2 separate regions of the Homo sapiens genome follow, and region 1 is linked to region 2. Evidence: fine-mapped expression QTL. Tissue or cell type: whole blood. Region 2 holds a variant in brackets; the other region holds the start of a gene. All regions are shown on one strand. Distances are from middle to middle.

Evidence for each region. PIP is the estimated chance that this variant, and not a neighbour inherited with it, causes the effect.
Region 1: COX16 starts here. The variant in region 2 is fine-mapped to the expression of COX16 in whole blood (INTERVAL, PIP above 0.99). The same link has a PIP of 0.9 or more in lung and tibial artery.

The regions. Positions count from the first base shown.
Region 1 is chr14:70,355,897-70,364,060 of GRCh38, reverse strand. COX16 (cytochrome c oxidase assembly factor COX16) reads left to right here and starts at 4,378. Exons shown (of 4, transcript NM_016468.7): 1 at 4,378-4,542. The coding sequence starts at 4,474. The region is part of intron 3 of SYNJ2BP-COX16 (SYNJ2BP-COX16 readthrough); the gene reads left to right. It also overlaps the pseudogene RNU2-51P. RefSeq lists enhancers at 3,799-3,888, 4,349-4,658.
Region 2 is chr14:70,322,862-70,331,061 of GRCh38, reverse strand. SYNJ2BP-COX16 (SYNJ2BP-COX16 readthrough) reads left to right here. Exons shown (of 5, transcript NM_001202549.2): 4 at 1,826-1,888; 5 at 4,613-5,981. The coding sequence ends at 4,729. COX16 (cytochrome c oxidase assembly factor COX16) reads left to right here. Exons shown (of 4, transcript NM_016468.7): 3 at 1,826-1,888; 4 at 4,613-5,981. The coding sequence ends at 4,729. Among named protein-coding and RNA genes, the nearest start is that of COX16, 33 kb to the left of the region's middle. The variant T/C (reference allele first, on the strand shown) is at 4,775.

The sequences.
Region 1 (8,164 bases), 33 kb before region 2:
GGAAGTTGAGGCTGCAGTGAGCCATGTATTCTTCATCCTTCACTGTATAGCATGATATGGGAAGATCCTGCCATTTCCTTGTTTTTGTTTGTTGGTTTGTTTTATTTATTATTATTATTTTTTTAAGATAGGGTCTTGCTCTGATGCTCAGGCTGGTCTCAAACTCCTGGGTTCAAGTGATCCTCCCGCCTTGGCCTCTCAAAGTTCTGGGATTACAGATGTGAGCTACCACTCCTGGCTGCTCCTGTCATTTCATTTGTTTTTCCAGAAAATTATGCATTGTGGTTTTGTACTATGAAGGAAGTCATGGAAAACAGAAATGTATTAGGCATGGTCCTGTTTACCCCATATCTTATACTCCATAAAAAGTAATAAGGCAAATACAGCAATAATTCTAAACTTGGAATGTTCATGATCACTATCATAAGAGAAAGTGCATTAAAGAAGAAACAGTTGATTTTCTGGCTGAACAATATCAAGGACAATTTTAACTGGTTTCAAGTTGGACTGAACTAGACCAACTCTTAGCTACTCTAGTTCTAGCCATAGAAATTAGATTGAATGGAGAAAAGGATTAAAATAAACCTTGGTGGCATGTTGACCTTGAGGTGTTAGAAAATCGTTCAGGCTCCTGGAAGTGTACCAGAAGTCTTCCATGCTGTGATAAAATTTGAAGCCAATGTGAAAGTGGAGTTTACCTAGGGAAAGAGGATGGAGCAGTGGTTGTCAGAGTGTGGTCCTCAGACCAGCAGCATCACCCAGAAGCTTGTTAGAAGGGCAGATTTTCAGGCCCCATCCCTGATCTACTAAATCTGAAACTCTGGTGATGGGGCCCAGCAGTCTGTTTTAATGCTCTCCCAGGGATTCTGGTGCACACTAAAGTTTGAGAGTAACTGAGACAGAGGGAAAAAATGGGACTAAGGACTCCAGTTTAAGGTTTGTAAGTCTGAAGACAACAAAAAGAAGTCTCACCATTGGAGAGGAGCCATGGCAGTGAAACTTCCATAAAAGCCACAGGAGGAGAGAATTTCAAGGAGATAGTCAGTATTGTCCAATTCTACAGGAAATTTAGTTCTGTTTGGGATATTTGTACCCCTTCCAAAGTGAGACCTTGTGTTTGCCTCTTAACTTTTCTGAGCCTTAGTCTGTTAACCTATAAGATGAGTCTGGCATCATGTTCTGCCCCTATCATAAGGTTTTTGAGTGAATCAAATTAGATGGTAAGCCAAGCATGGTAGCACACACCTGTAGTCCCAGCTACTTAGGAGGCCAAGGCAGGAGGATTGTTTGAGCCCAGGAGTTCAAGACCAGCCTGAACAATATAGCAGAACCTGTCTCAAAAAAAAAAAACAATTAGTAGATTCAATGGCATTATCAAAGTAAACAAAGATTCATGAAGTAACTAATCTTTCGATTACCATAGCCATGAATTCTGGCCATAATTCTGCTCTGTTGCCCAGGCTGGAGTGCAGTGGCACCATCTCGGCTCATTGCAGCCTCCACCTCCCGAGTTCAAGTGATTCTCCTGCCTCAGCCTCCCGAGTAGCTGGGATTACAGTCATGCGCCTTCATGCCCGGCTAATTTTTGTAGTTTTAGTAGAGACAGGGTTTCACCATGTTGGCCAGGCTGGTCTCAAACTCCTGACCTCAGGTGATCTGCCCGCCTCGGCCTCCCAAAGTGCTGGGATTACAGGTATGAGCCACTGTGGCTGGCCAGTTCTGGCCATAATTCTAAAACCTAACTTCAGGACTAAAGCTCTCAAGAAGACTGGTGTTTTTGTTTTTGTTTTATAACAACGCTCCCATGTACTTGCATGAGTTAAATGCTGGTAGAGCAGATACTAGAGGATAATATAACCTGCCTGGATATCAAGTACATACCAGTCCTCAGGGACTGGCATAGATGGTGGAGATGCCCCATTTCCTGAATATACATTTTTTGTAACTTCTTACAGTTAAGATAGCTGAGTCAGCATTTTAACTGTTTATTAACAATGGAAACACATGGAATTTGAGTCATATTTCTGGGAAGGCAACAGATTCCATACTGGTAAGAAATTTTGTGTTCCCTTTTTGTGAGAATCGTAAACTGATGACAAATATCACTCATTCCGATTTAACAGATGGAAAAACTGAAGTATACAGTAGTGATGCTTAAGAAGGGCGCTATGCATAGCTGGTAAAATTTACCACCTATGTAGTATGATTTGATAGGTGCTTACATTCCTCAGTGTCACAGATTTTGTCCCCTGACAATCTGCCGGCATACCTGTAATTCCTACTGTTCACAGTTACTCCTTCAGGGCCATTTCAAGGTTCTCAATAAATGCTTATTTGAGTGATTGAACAAACAAGATACTAAAGACATAGAGTGCCTTAAATTGGATAGATGCCTTATCTGAAAAGTGTAAGATTATCGACTCTAGCATTATTTTGAATATATGTATACGATTTAACCCATTATTAGCTACTACTTAGGTGCCGGGTTTTGATGGAGTAGTATCCAGTAGGCTGATGTTTTATGTAGTGAAGATGTAGGAAAACGCTAGAGTTTTAGAGCAGCGCCTTTGGCTTCTAGGATCTTAGGGAAAGTAGGAGATGTGATACGCTTAACTAACCTGGATGCCACGTGAGATTTATTTATTTATTTTTGAAACAGGGTCTAGCTGTGTCACCCAGGCTGCAGTGCAGTGGCATGATCACGGCTCACTGTAGCCTGGACCTCCTGGGCTCAAGTGATCTTCCCACCTCAGCTTCCCAAGTAGCTGAGACCCCACCATGCCTGGCTAATTTATTATTATTATTATTATTTGTAAAGATGGGGTCTTGCTTTGTTGCTCAGGCTGGTCTCGAACTCCTGGGCTCAAATGATCCTCCTGCCTCAGCCTCCCAAACTGCAGGTATTACAGGCATGAGCCACCATGCCTGGTCTGCATGAATTTTGAAATATCAAAAGGAAGTAAATAAGATGGGAGAGATGCACCGTTCCTGGGTTTCTGGAGGTATTGAAATACAGGTTGATGTGTAGAGTGGTGGAGCAAACTCCTATTCCATCTCCTTGCTTCAAAAACCCATTTAACATATTTTCCTTGGATAGAGAATGTGTCAAATATTAAACTGTTAAGAACAGATACTACACTTGATCTTAGCCAAAAGGATAAGTTTCACTGGAGTAGCCTGCAGTAGATCTGGAGCTTCTCTTCTGGAGACCACTTAAGAGGCTACTTTAATAGGTGAAAAGATGATAAGGAATTAAAAAAAGGAACATTTCAGTGGTAACAGAGAGGCAGGGACAGATGGAAATATTTCAGGAATAGCATGGAAGATAATATTCCGCATCACCTGCACTCTGATTCACTCTGGTAAATGGGACACGTGGGGGATCGGCTTCCTAAGCTATCCCAGTACTTCACACATGTTTGTTTCTGTGCCCATGAAATCGCCAGTGTCTTTAAGGTAAGGATCATATATTTTTATCTGTGTTCCTAGAACCCTTTCAAAGACACGCTGAAAGGTGGCCTGTATGGTTGCTGAATCATTGGTAAATAGACATTCATAAATGACTAAAGATTACAGGTTATCTCACAGTAAAATCATTAGCATTAAAAGTTCAGTAATGACTGATGAGACACTACACTGATTACATTTCAACCTAATCTTTCAAAAGCGATTTATTTTTAAAAGTCTCCATTAAACTGGCAAATTCCTCATCCCACAAATAGCCATAAAGACTGGAGTACCAGCTTCAAAATACTTTTTTTTCTTTTTTCTTTTTGAGACGAAGTCTCGCTCTTGTTCCCCAGGCTGGAGTGCGATGGCGCGATCTCTGCTCATTGCAACCTCCGCCTCCCGGGTTCAAGCGATTCTCCTGCCTCGGCCCCCCAGTAGCTGGGATTACAGGCGCCTGCCACCACGCCCGGCTAATTTTTGTATTTTTTTTTTTTAATAGAGACGGGGTTTTACCATGTTGACCAGGCTGATCTAGAACTCCTGACCTCAGGTGATCTACCGGCCTCGGCCTCCCAAAGTGCTGGGATTACAGGCCACCCACCCAGGCCACCGCGCCCGGCCTCAAAATACTTTTTTCCTTAGCTGATTTTATCGAGTGGCTATGTGCCTAAGGGAGTGTTCTAAGCAGACGTTAGTTAGGACCCAGAACGTGGGAAGTACTGGTTTCCAGATCAATTTGGTGGTGATCGTAAACCGATTCAAATCTCTAAATCCCAATTGCACGCCGACGTTACGGAACCAAAAACGCTGACGCCCACATTTCTGGGCGGACGCACAAGTATGTTACGATGGCTCGATTGCTTTTGCCTAGCGGAAACCATTCACTAAGGACCGAGCACCAAATAACCAAGGAAAAGGAAGTGAGTTAAGGACGTACTCGTCTTGGTGAGAGCGTGAGCTGCTGAGATTTGGGAGTCTGCGCTAGGCCCGCTTGGAGTTCTGAGCCGATGGAAGAGTTCACTCATGTTTGCACCCGCGGTGATGCGTGCTTTTCGCAAGAACAAGACTCTCGGCTATGGAGTCCCCATGTTGGTGAGTGGAGTGAGGAGGATCTTCCGCAAGGGGTGGGACCCTCCTCCTTGGCAGGATCAAGACCTGGGAGGGAATCTGTAAAATGTGAAGTTAAGGGCTGGCACTCGGGCTAGGAAGGAGCTAGCGACGGGGTGAGAGCTTTCCTAAAAGCTCTTCCACCAGTCTTTTCCACACCCCCACTTCCCCGCCGCTGTCCCCCACTCCCGGTTGGATTTCAGGTGTACTAGGATCTGTCTGCTTGTGAGCGTGGCGTCTTTCCCATCGTCGAACGCGGTCATTGTTACTACCCTTGATTCACAGTTAAGTAAATTGAAGCTCAGAGAATTCAGTCAGAACCACACTTTAAGCCAAGTTTGGATGATTACTAAGCTTGCTTCCTCGCCCCCAACTTAGCTATGTTTTGACGATACTGTGGATCATTGGGACTAGATGTATTCCATTTAACTGCACGAATTCCTGGTATCTTTCTGTTTCATCTTTCTAGTTTGTGAATTAGCTTAATACTTAGAGTTGTGATGAACTAATAACACCTTGTGAATAAAGTGTTGAGTACGGTGCCTGCCACATTGTAGCCAGAATGATTGCTGTGTTATAATTTCTAAAGCACGTTGAAAACAGCTTCCGTGTTTATATGGTTTCATCCATATCCACACTGAGTTCCCTAAGGATGTCATGAAATGCAGGCTGAGGCTGGCTTAAGACAACCAGAGTTGAAATCCAGATGACTCTTATTTGCTTTTTGATTACGGGCCAGTTATTTTGCTTCAGCAAGCCTTGATGTGTTAGTAAATGAAATAATTAAAGCATATGAACAAAAGCTGCTTTTAAATACAGACTATATTTTTATTTTGTATGAATGTTGGCGCAGATGAAATTACCAGCTTTTCCATTTAAGCAGACTAAAGGAAAGAAGTGATCTTAGAAAGGTAATGGATATTTTACACAGTTTTGAAAAATCCACATTCATCAAATGTGGATTTTAGGAATCTCCAAAAGATTCACCCATTTGAAGTATCTGGGCCAAGCACGATGGCTCACACCTGTAATCCCAGTGTTAGGGGAAGCCAAGACAGGAGGATCGCTTTAGGTCAGGAGTTCCAAACCAGCAAGACCTCTGTCTCTCCAAAAAAAAAAAAAAAAAAAAAAATTGTTGTTTTTAGCAAATTCGATATTAGTATACTAATATATTCGTATATTAGTATATTCTTAGTTATGGAGCCATCACCACAATTTTAGAACATTTTCATTGCCCCCAAAAAAGCATCATAACTAATAGTAGTCACTTCCCATTTCTTCCTGCCTCTTAATGCTGGCCTGGTAAACCACTAATCTACTTCTACCCGTAAATTTGCTTATTCTGCACATTTCATATTAACACACTAATACAACGTGGGTTTTTTGTGACTGGATTCTTCCACTTAGAATGTTTTTAAGGTTCATTCACATTGTAACATATATCAATACTTCATTCCTTTTGATGGATATAATTCCATTGTTTGGATATATTTTATCAATTGATGAACATTTGGGTTGTTTCAATTTTTGACTATTATGAATAATGCTGCTATGAACATTTATGTACACGCTTTGTGTGGAAGTATGTTTTCATTTCTCTCAGGTAGGGAATATACCTAGACGTGGAATTGCTAGGTCATATGGTAACTCTTCAACTTTTTAGGATGTGCCAGATGTTTTCCAAAGTGGCTGCATCATTTTACATTCCCACCAGCAAGATATGATTTTCAATTTCTCCACATCCTTGCCAACACTTGTTATTGTCCATCTTTTGAATTATTACCCTTTCTAGTAGGTGTGAAGTGATACCTCATTGTGGTTTTGATTTTCATTTCCCTAACGACTTATTATGTTGAGCATCTTTTCAAATGTTTATTGGTCATTTGAATATCTTTTTGGAGAAATGTCTGTTCAAATCCTTTGCCCATTTTTTAATTGGACTATGTTTCCTTTTATTGGACAGAGGTTTCTTTAAAACCCAAAACCAACAAATCTGCCAGTCTTTGTCGAGAGGCTCTGCATGCTTTTTTGGGCATGCTTTCAACATTCAGCCATGCAATTTACAGCTCCATGTATAGCCTTCACTTCTTACTTGCTCAGAGCTTCAAATTAGTCATAAGTTGAGAATTTAGGGCCTTCTCAGGTCTTTCTTGGGCATATACATTGCTCTGGGCATGTACACAGTTCTAGTTATTTGCATGACTTTCTAAATTCTCAGGAATATATTTGAGCTTTTCAGAGTCCTCTAAGGACACCTTATTCCTATTATCTACCACATCAGACAGTCATAATGTTAAACAATTACCTCTGAATTTTTTTTTTTTTTTTTTTTTTTTTTTTTTTTTGACAAACGCTTCCTAGGAGAAGTCTGTTCATACTAGTTGAGCTCCATGTCAGGTAAACTACAGAGAGCTTTGTGAATAGCATCTTCCAGGAAGTACCAGACTGGTGAAATGATGACATTTCTCACAGAATGGTGTTTTAAAGAGCTCCAACCTCTCTACCCTCTTCACTTGGTGCCAGGCTTTACATCATGTTTGCAGGCTGTTGGTTTTCATGGTTGTTACGGAGCTTGGGTGGAGGGGTGAGAATATGACAAATTAAAAATGCCACCAAGCTGTTCTTCCTGAGATTCAGGCATTTTTCTTAGGTAAATACTGTGCACATTGTTGCAAGTTTTTGCTTAATTTTCAGAGTTCTAAAAAAGTTTATTTGACAATTTTTTACAAATATTCTCGTTTTTGTGGAGGAAAGGATTTTTGGAGATACTCCACCATGTCACTGATATCACCCTTTGGTTCTTCTTTATATCTTCTATGTCTTTGGCGAGATTTTCTAATTTTCCATTTGTTTCAAGAAAATCTGTTGTTGTTTGAAGTATTTTTATGATGTTTCCTTTGAGGTCTTCGTCATCTTTGTCAGATAATTCTAATCTCTGATTTATCTCTGTGTTAGCATCTCTCCATAGCCTTTTTAAAATTCAAGTTTGTCTTAGTCCATTTGTGTTGCTAGAAAGCAGGGGTCCTCAACCCCTGGGCCACGGACTGGTACTGGTTTGTGGCCTGTTAGGAACTGGGCTGCACAGTAGGAGGTGAGCAGTAGGTGAGTGGGCATTATTGCCTGAGCTCCACCTCCTGTCAGATCAGAGGTGGCATTAGATTCTCATAGGAGCACGAGTCCTATTGTGAACTGCACATGTGAGGGATCTAGGTTGCATGCTCCTTATGAGATCTAATGTCTGATGATCTAAAGTGGAACAGTTTCATCCCCAAACTGCCATCCCACCCCCCACCCCCGCCACCATCTGTGGAAAAATGGTCTGCCATGAAACTGGTCCCTGGTGCCAGAAAGTTTGGGGACCACTGTTGCTATAAAGGAATACTAGAGGCTGGGTAATTTATAAAGGAAAGAATTTTCTTTTGGCTCATGGTTCTGCAGGCTGTACATACTGTGAAGCACGGCACAGCATCTGCTTCTGGTGCGGGCCTCAAGCTGCTTCCACTTGTGGCAGAAGGCAAAAGGGAGCCAGCATGTGCAGAGATCACATGCCAAGAGAGAGGGGAGGGAGGTGGCAGGCTCTTTTTGACAACCAGCTCTCAAGGGAACT
Region 2 (8,200 bases):
CTTTCCAGCCTGGTGACAGTGAGATTTCCATCTCAAAGAAAAAAAGTTCAATACAATATATTTTATTCTTCTTTTACTTTATGATTTTTAAGAAACATTTTCCCTACTCCAAAGTATAAATATTTTTCTATGTGAATTACTATAAGTTTTGATTTTTGCCTTTCATATTTGGGTCTACATTCTATGTGGAATTGATTTTTTTCTTTTTTTGTATGTGATGTGAGGAATATATTCTCTTAATAGATAAGAAATTGTGCAATCATCAAATATTGACAATCGCATTGTTTCGTGACTGCTCTTCTGTGCCTAATTTGTCATAAATCAACTGTTCATATAAGTTTTTAAGTCTGCTTCAGGATTCTCTGTTCTGTCGCATTAGTTTGTTTGCAAATTACATTGTGATTTCCAAATTAACTTCGCCTTTCTGGAATAAATTCAACTTGATCATGGTATGCTGTCTTTTTGGTATGTTGCTGAATTCTTTTTACACTAAGAATTCTGCATTTGTGTTCATATATGAAGCTGGCCTGTTATTTTTATTTTCTTGTGAAATTTGATATCAGGGTTATGCTTACCACATAATTCATACAGAGTGTTTGTTACACTGGCATTATTTCTTCCTTGGGAGAATTCACTGGCAAAGCCATCTGACCCTGGACTTTTCTTTGTGTGAGGTTATTCATTATAGATTTAATTCTTTATAGATTGTAAAACTATTCAGGTTGTCTATTGTGCCTTTGTCAGTTTTGGAAAGTTGTATTTTTCTATTAATCTGTCCATTTTATCTAAGTTTTCAAATTAATGGCATAAAATTATTCATATTATTATACTCTTTATTGCCTATAGAATTTGTGCTGTTGACCTTTTCATCTAAATACTCTTTATTTGTGACTTCTCTTTTTTCTCTTAATCAACTTCACTTTGATTAAAAATGTTTTTGTTTTGTTGTGCTTATTTCTTATGATGTTCTTTCAGTCTGAGGACTCATTGCTATGTAGTGGTGAATTCTTTGCTATTTTTATTTAATTATTGCTCTCCCTCCCCTTTATTTTCTAATTCTGGAACTTCTAGCTATGTGTTAGAACTTTTAGGTCTAGCTTTTGTAAAATACTTTTTTTCATTCATCTCATTTTTATCTCTTCATGCATTATTCCAGTGAAATCCTCTGGTTATGCTTCTATTTTACTTATTTGATCTTTGCTTTTTTGTAGTTGTTGTTTATTGATTTCAGCCATCATACTCTTTTTCCTGAAGGCTTTGCCACATACAGAAAGGCTTTTTATACAGTTAATATAGCATTAGCTCCTTTTTACCTCTATGGATTTTTTTTTTTTTTTTTTGGTAGATATCTACTTCTGGCCCATGGAAGGTATTCCTTTTTGTTTTCAAGTGCAGCATTATATTAGTATTTTTGTTATTTCTCCATAATATAATTTAGATTGGTGGTTAATAGTGTGAACTCTGGAGGCAGAGAACTAATACTTAAAGCCAAGCTCTGCTTCTTTGACATGTTATTCAAACCCCGTGTCCCATATTCCTTACATATAATACAGATCTCATGGATTTTGTGAGGATGAAACAAGATAATATATGTCAAAATGCCTCTCACATAACAAGTAATCAGTAGATATTAACTCTTTTTAGTTGAATAATGCTGGCAGTAGTACATTAGTTATCATTATGTGATCAGAGTAGATGGTGGAGATTTTGCCATGTGTTTGTATTTGGCTATAGTATTTCAGCCATCTCTTCTATAACTTAAAATTGAAAATTGAGTCTAACAAACAGACTTAGATAACTTATTACTTTTTTTCCTTTTCTACAGATGGATCCTGAGCTTGAAAAAAAACTGAAAGAGAATAAAATATCTTTAGAGTCGGAATATGAGGTACGGTATGTTAATATAGTCTCTGTCTTATAACAATCAGTTACTGGTTTTATCTGCCTTAAAAGTATTAGTAGTACAGAAAAAAATTACGTTGAATATATATGGTATTTGATAAACTATAATCATTTGAAAAGCAAATAAAAAGATGGATCCATACTTAATATACTACAAATAAATAAATTCCAGATGGATCAAGAATTTGAAAGTAAAAAACAAAATGCTGAAAGTACTAGGAGAATATAAATGGAGAATTTTGTTTGTTGTCTTGAGTCAAAAAAGCCTATTTAAATGTGATATAAAACCCAGAAGCTCTAAAAGTAAAGATCAATGGGTTCATACATACAAATTCAAAAGTTAAGAATGAAAAAAGTATATAAAGTCACAGATTACATGAGAAATCCTACAGATATAGTTTAATCTTATCATGGCACATTAATTTACTTAAATATGAAGACCATCTCCAAATCAATGTGAAAAAGTTCAACAATTCATTTGTTCAGTAAGAACATGGGAAAGCATAGCATGTAAAACTTTTGGACAAAAGGAAATAAGTATCATTCTTAAACATATGAAGAGATGCTCAATTTATCATAATAGGAATGTCAAAGTCTAACGAGGTATCACTTTTCACCCATCTAATTAGCAAAAATCAAGGAGTTTAACAGCACGCTATATTATGGGATGTGGTGAGGATGTTCTTCATGTCTTTGAGTTTGTCATTTTTTTGACTGGATTATATTTTCCTGTTTCTTTGTATATGTCTGGTCATTTTGTATTGAAAGGTAGTCATTGTGAATAATACACTGAAGAAAATTCTGAAGAGTGTTGATTTTTATTTTGACAATTTAATTGTTAGCTAATCACCTTAAACTTCATTTTGTGCTTTGTAGGGAAGTATCTGTTGAAGGGCTAGCTATCTTTCCTTGGCCCTTCTCCCTTGTTGGGACTCAATCTCCAGACTATCTCCCCAGAGAATCTTGTCAAGGCTTGGCTTTAAGCTTTGTTGGGGTGAGTCTAAAGAAAATCTTATCGCGCCACTGCACTCCAGCCTGGGTGACAGAACGAGACTCCGTCTCAAAAAAAAAAAAAAAAAAAAAAAAATCTTATTCTCAGGCATAATTTTTACTCCTGAAGAACAGTCCTTTTGGTGTCTTAGGTGGATGTCAGGGTAGCAACAAAATGTTAAAAGAAAGGTCTCCACTCTGGCAGGCCTGGAAACTCCATATTCTTGACACTGTTTTTTCTCAGCATTTCTTGACGCTGTTCCACACTCAGGCCTATACCAGTTGGCTGTGAAGTGTTATGTCTTGGGTGGTTTTTCTCAGCACATTTACATAGCCCATTCTTCAGCCACTGTGCACGTTTTGTAGAATTCTACAAGGAATCTCCTTCACCAAAGATCTGTAAAGGCTAGACTACTTTTACATGAACTTGTTATTTAAGAATTTTCTTCAGTTCTGTTAAGCATACATATCTTACGTTACCTGGATAATGGCCATTATTCTTTATTAAAATCTTTTAATAACTTTAGATCATTTCATAACTATACTTATGAAATAATCTAAATTCTTCTTGTATGCTAAATTAGTTGAATTTTGTTCCTTCATGTATATATGTAATACAGACTCCTGGTAAAACTATAAGTGAACAGTATTTTCATTTACTACTTTCCCATTGATTAAAAAAAAAAATCCTGTAACTTGCTAACTTGTAGTTCTACAAGTGCTATACCAGTAATGATGCTATGAAGAGTTTGTCTGGGAGTAGATTTTCCTTCTAGTTCTTCTAGGACCTGTAGAATTTGAGAGCTGAAGACTCTCAAATGTAGAGTATTTGGTCCAACCTTTTCATTGTTACTTATGAGAGAGTTAATGCCCAGGTGGCTTAAATTACTTTCCAAAGGTTATATAGCTAGTTAGTAAGAGAGTAATGCTTAGTATCCAAGTGTCAAGGTAAATTTATTCCATTTTCCCTGTCTCTGGATATAAGCTATCCTATGTTTTCACAGCTTTTTTTTTCCATCTTACTCAATTATTTCAGAACAACCAAAACAGCAGATATGTAAAAGTTAATGTCAGAGTGGTGGTCAGTAGGAGAAAGGTGAAGAAACATTTATTTCTTCCCTTTTATTCCAACTATTTTTGTGCTTGAGAGGTACTTCAGACTAAATGAAGGTAGGATGATCCATAATGTAGTTGCAGTTAGTTTCAGTTGCCCAAAAGTGTTTTGCTTATGATAGATAGCTGTAGGAAAGTCTTTTCATTCCTAAGCCCAGGCGTAAGACAAATGATCTTGGTCTCTTTTCTTTTTTGTAGAAGACTTTAGGGTCTCCACCCTTTGTTCTTTTCTTCTTATTTTCTACCATCATCCCTGATAACCCTTTCAGTCACTGTGCTGGATCAGCCTTCAGATTTGTACTTTTGTTTTCCCAGCTTCAGCCTTTTCCTTGTCCTCTCAAAAATAAGGCATGTAGACTCTTTCTCTATTTTAATAGTTTTACGGTTAAGGTGGCGTAAGATAGGCATTAACATCAGTAACAAATGAAAAGTTCTAAATCTTAAGATGACATTTCATCAATGATTGTAGTTGATTTATTTGCTACAGTTGTAATCGAGGACCTATCGGATACTTTCTACTCATTTATTCATTGAGTTAGTTGTGTCCTAATCAAAGCCACAGGCTCTTATACTAATATTTATACTTTAATTTTTTGTGGTTCTATAGAAAATCAAAGACTCCAAGTTTGATGACTGGAAGAATATTCGAGGACCCAGGCCTTGGGAAGATCCTGACCTCCTCCAAGGAAGAAATCCAGAAAGCCTTAAGACTAAGACAACTTGACTCTGCTGATTCTTTTTTCCTTTTTTTTTTTTTTAAATAAAAATA[T/C]TATTAACTGGACTTCCTAATATATACTTCTATCAAGTGGAAAGGAAATTCCAGGCCCATGGAAACTTGGATATGGGTAATTTGATGACAAATAATCTTCACTAAAGGTCATGTACAGGTTTTTATACTTCCCAGCTATTCCATCTGTGGATGAAAGTAACAATGTTGGCCACGTATATTTTACACCTCGAAATAAAAAATGTGAATACTGCTCCAAAAACAGAGTCACGTATTCCACTCTCCAACTACCCACATATTCCTTTTGCAATAGCCATTAGGGCATCATTTTGATATTTCATTCTGATTTCTGATTCTCTGATTTCTGATTCCTAATGAGGACAGTAGGTCTGGATCCAAATTCTCACAGTAAAATCAAGCAGTAATTTTCTCTCATATCTATTAGGGAAAGAAAAATGATCACAGTCTGCTAAGAGTCTTGATTTTCTTTGTAATGCCTCACATAGTATGATAATCAGTCTCCAAAGCATCACATGATAATTACAATGATACCATTAACATGTCAAGGAAATTATATTATTTATGGTTGTCAAAAATTATGAAGTAGTGTATGATTATAAGCAGATATGGCAAATTTGTTCAGTAAATCCATAGATGACTACATTTTGAGAAATACTAAGATAATACTAAAAATTATGCCTTAGCATAATTTGCATGCAAAATTGCCCTCTAGTGTTTTTGTTTTGTTTTGAGACATAGTCTCGCTCTGTTCGCCCAGGCTGGAGTGCAGGGGCACGATCTCTGCTCACTGCAAGCTCTGCTTCCCGGGTTCACACCATTCTCCTGCCTCAGCATCCTGAGTAGCTGGGACTACAGGCACATGCTGTCACACCCGGCTAATTTTTTGTATTTAGTAGAGATGGGGTTTCACCACGTTAGCCAGGATGGTCTCCATCTCCTGACCTTGTGATCCGCCCACCTCGGCCTCACAAATTGCTGGGATTACAGGTGTGAGCCACCACGCCTGGCCGAAAGTTAGTTGTTTTGAACTCATTTTCTCCTTTTTACCCCTGCCTTTATCAGCTTCTACCTTCTGGTTTCATGCTGAGTTCTAGTTGCCTAAAGTCTCCATTGAAACACTCCTGTTATAATTGCCATAAAATCATAAATCCACTCCCCCTTTCTCCTCCTAGTCAAAATTTGTATTCTTTTCAGCAGGTTGGTTTTAATAAAAAGTAAATTAAGTTGATTATCTAGTGATAATTTGTGATAGACATGATTCATAAGATAGTTATCTGGGGGAGCAATTGGATTTCAGAGAAAAAAAGTCTCCACTTATTATTCACTCATTAAACAAGTAACTCAAAAAAGGATCATTGATTTAAATGTAAAACATAAAAGTATAAAACTTTTAGGAAAAACCACAGGAGAAAGGCTTCAACTTACCGAATAGCTCTTACCAAAGAATATTGATAAAAGAAAAACTTGACAGATTGACACATCAATATTACAAGCTTTTGTTTGCCAAAGGCCCTGTTAAAAGGATGAAAAATATAGACAGAGAAAACACATGTAAACCACATATCTGGCAAAAGACTCATACCTAGAGTAAAGAACTCTGTAAACTCAGTTAAAAAATATCCAATTAGAAAATGGGCAAAAAACATAGAAACATTTCACTACAGAGGATACACTGATAGCAAATTAGCTCTGAAAAGAATGTTTGACATCACTATGAAGGAAATGCAATTTTAGACTACATTGACATCACTAGACATCTATTAGAATACCTAAAAAAAAAAAAAAATTAGTGACAGTATGAAATGCTGGCCAGGATGTGGAGAAATGAAATCTCACATGGTGGTGGTATCATGTAAATGGTACAACTCGTCTGGAAAATTGGCAGTTTCTTTAAAAGCATAAGGGACTTCTGGTTTCCAGTTTGATATGTAAAAAGTTTGAAAAATTTAATTCCCATCATAACAAAGAAAAAAGCTGAACAACTAAACTCTGACTTTGAGTTGAAGTCACAGGACAAACTACCACCCTGAAAACTGGAGACAAAGGCAGGTCCAGAAAATCATATTTTACCTGGAGGAGCACCTGCCCAGAAACCACCACTGGAGCCAGCATTGGGTAGGAATATCTAAAGGTAATTGAATACTTCCTGGAGGCTGATCATGGACTAATTGAGAGAAAATCTCTTGAGAGGAGGCCAAGCCTTGTGTGGATTTGAGAAGGCACACTTGTGAGTTTTACCTCTAAGAGTCCCACCTGGTTTTCATAGTGAATATCAGAAAAATCCCCTTGTGCTTCTAGCAGATGTAGGTGAGAGTAACTATTCTGAAATAAGCCCAGAGAATTCTGTTTTATTTAATGTAAGCCTGGCCCCAAAGTAAACTCTTTTGCTAGAACCTAATTGCATTGGGTTTTACCAGTGCCTAGACAACTGGAGGAAGGGGAATAACCAACTCCAGCCTCCTCCAACCTTCCTGTTTTACCTAAATGGGGGTGAGGAGAGGTGGAGGAAGACTGAAAAACACTTGTGAATGTCCAGTCTGGGGACCTAGGCTTATTAAGAAGCCTAATCACAGGACCTATAGAATGCTCCCCACTGCATGTATTACCACCACATCACTAAAGACCTATTCACTCGAGTTCATTTTACCCGGTACATCACGTCCAACAGTCAACAAAAACGAAAGACAAAAAGCACAGTTTGAAGAGAAAATGAGCATCAGAATCAGATTCAGACATGGCAGGGATGTTGCAGTGATCACACTGGGAATTTAAAATATGATTAATATGCTAAGAGCTCTGATGGAAAAAGTATACAACGTGCAAGAACAAATGGGCAATAAAAGCAAAGAAATGGAAGAATTAAAAGGAAATTCTAGCATTAAAAAACTAACAAGAGAACAGTGACTTTGATGAGGTCATCAACAGAGTGGACAGAACTGAAGAAAGGGAGAAAAGTACATATAGTATGTTAACAGTAATCAAAAAGTTTGAGTAGTTATATTAATCTCAGACAAATCAGACTTTAGAGCACTGAAAATCATGGAAGAAGAGGGGCATTACATAATAATAAAGGGGGCCCACCCTCTCCAAGAAGACATAAAATTCTTAATGTATATACACTGAACAAAGCAGCAAAATACATGAGCAAAAACTGGTAGAGCTGCAAATATGTGAGAAATATAGGAATAGACTTACAGAGACACAATCCTCTTATCAGCAACTGACAAATCAAGTAGGCAGAAAATGATTGAGGACATAGTTGAGCACCATCAATCAGCTATATCTAATTGACATCTATAGCGTACTCCACAACAACAGAATAGGCATTCTTCTCAAGTTCAAACAACATTCATCACTATGAACAACCATATAACACACCTCAACAAATTTGAAAGGATAAAAATCATACAAAGTATGCCTTCAGACTATTATGGAATTAAACTAGAA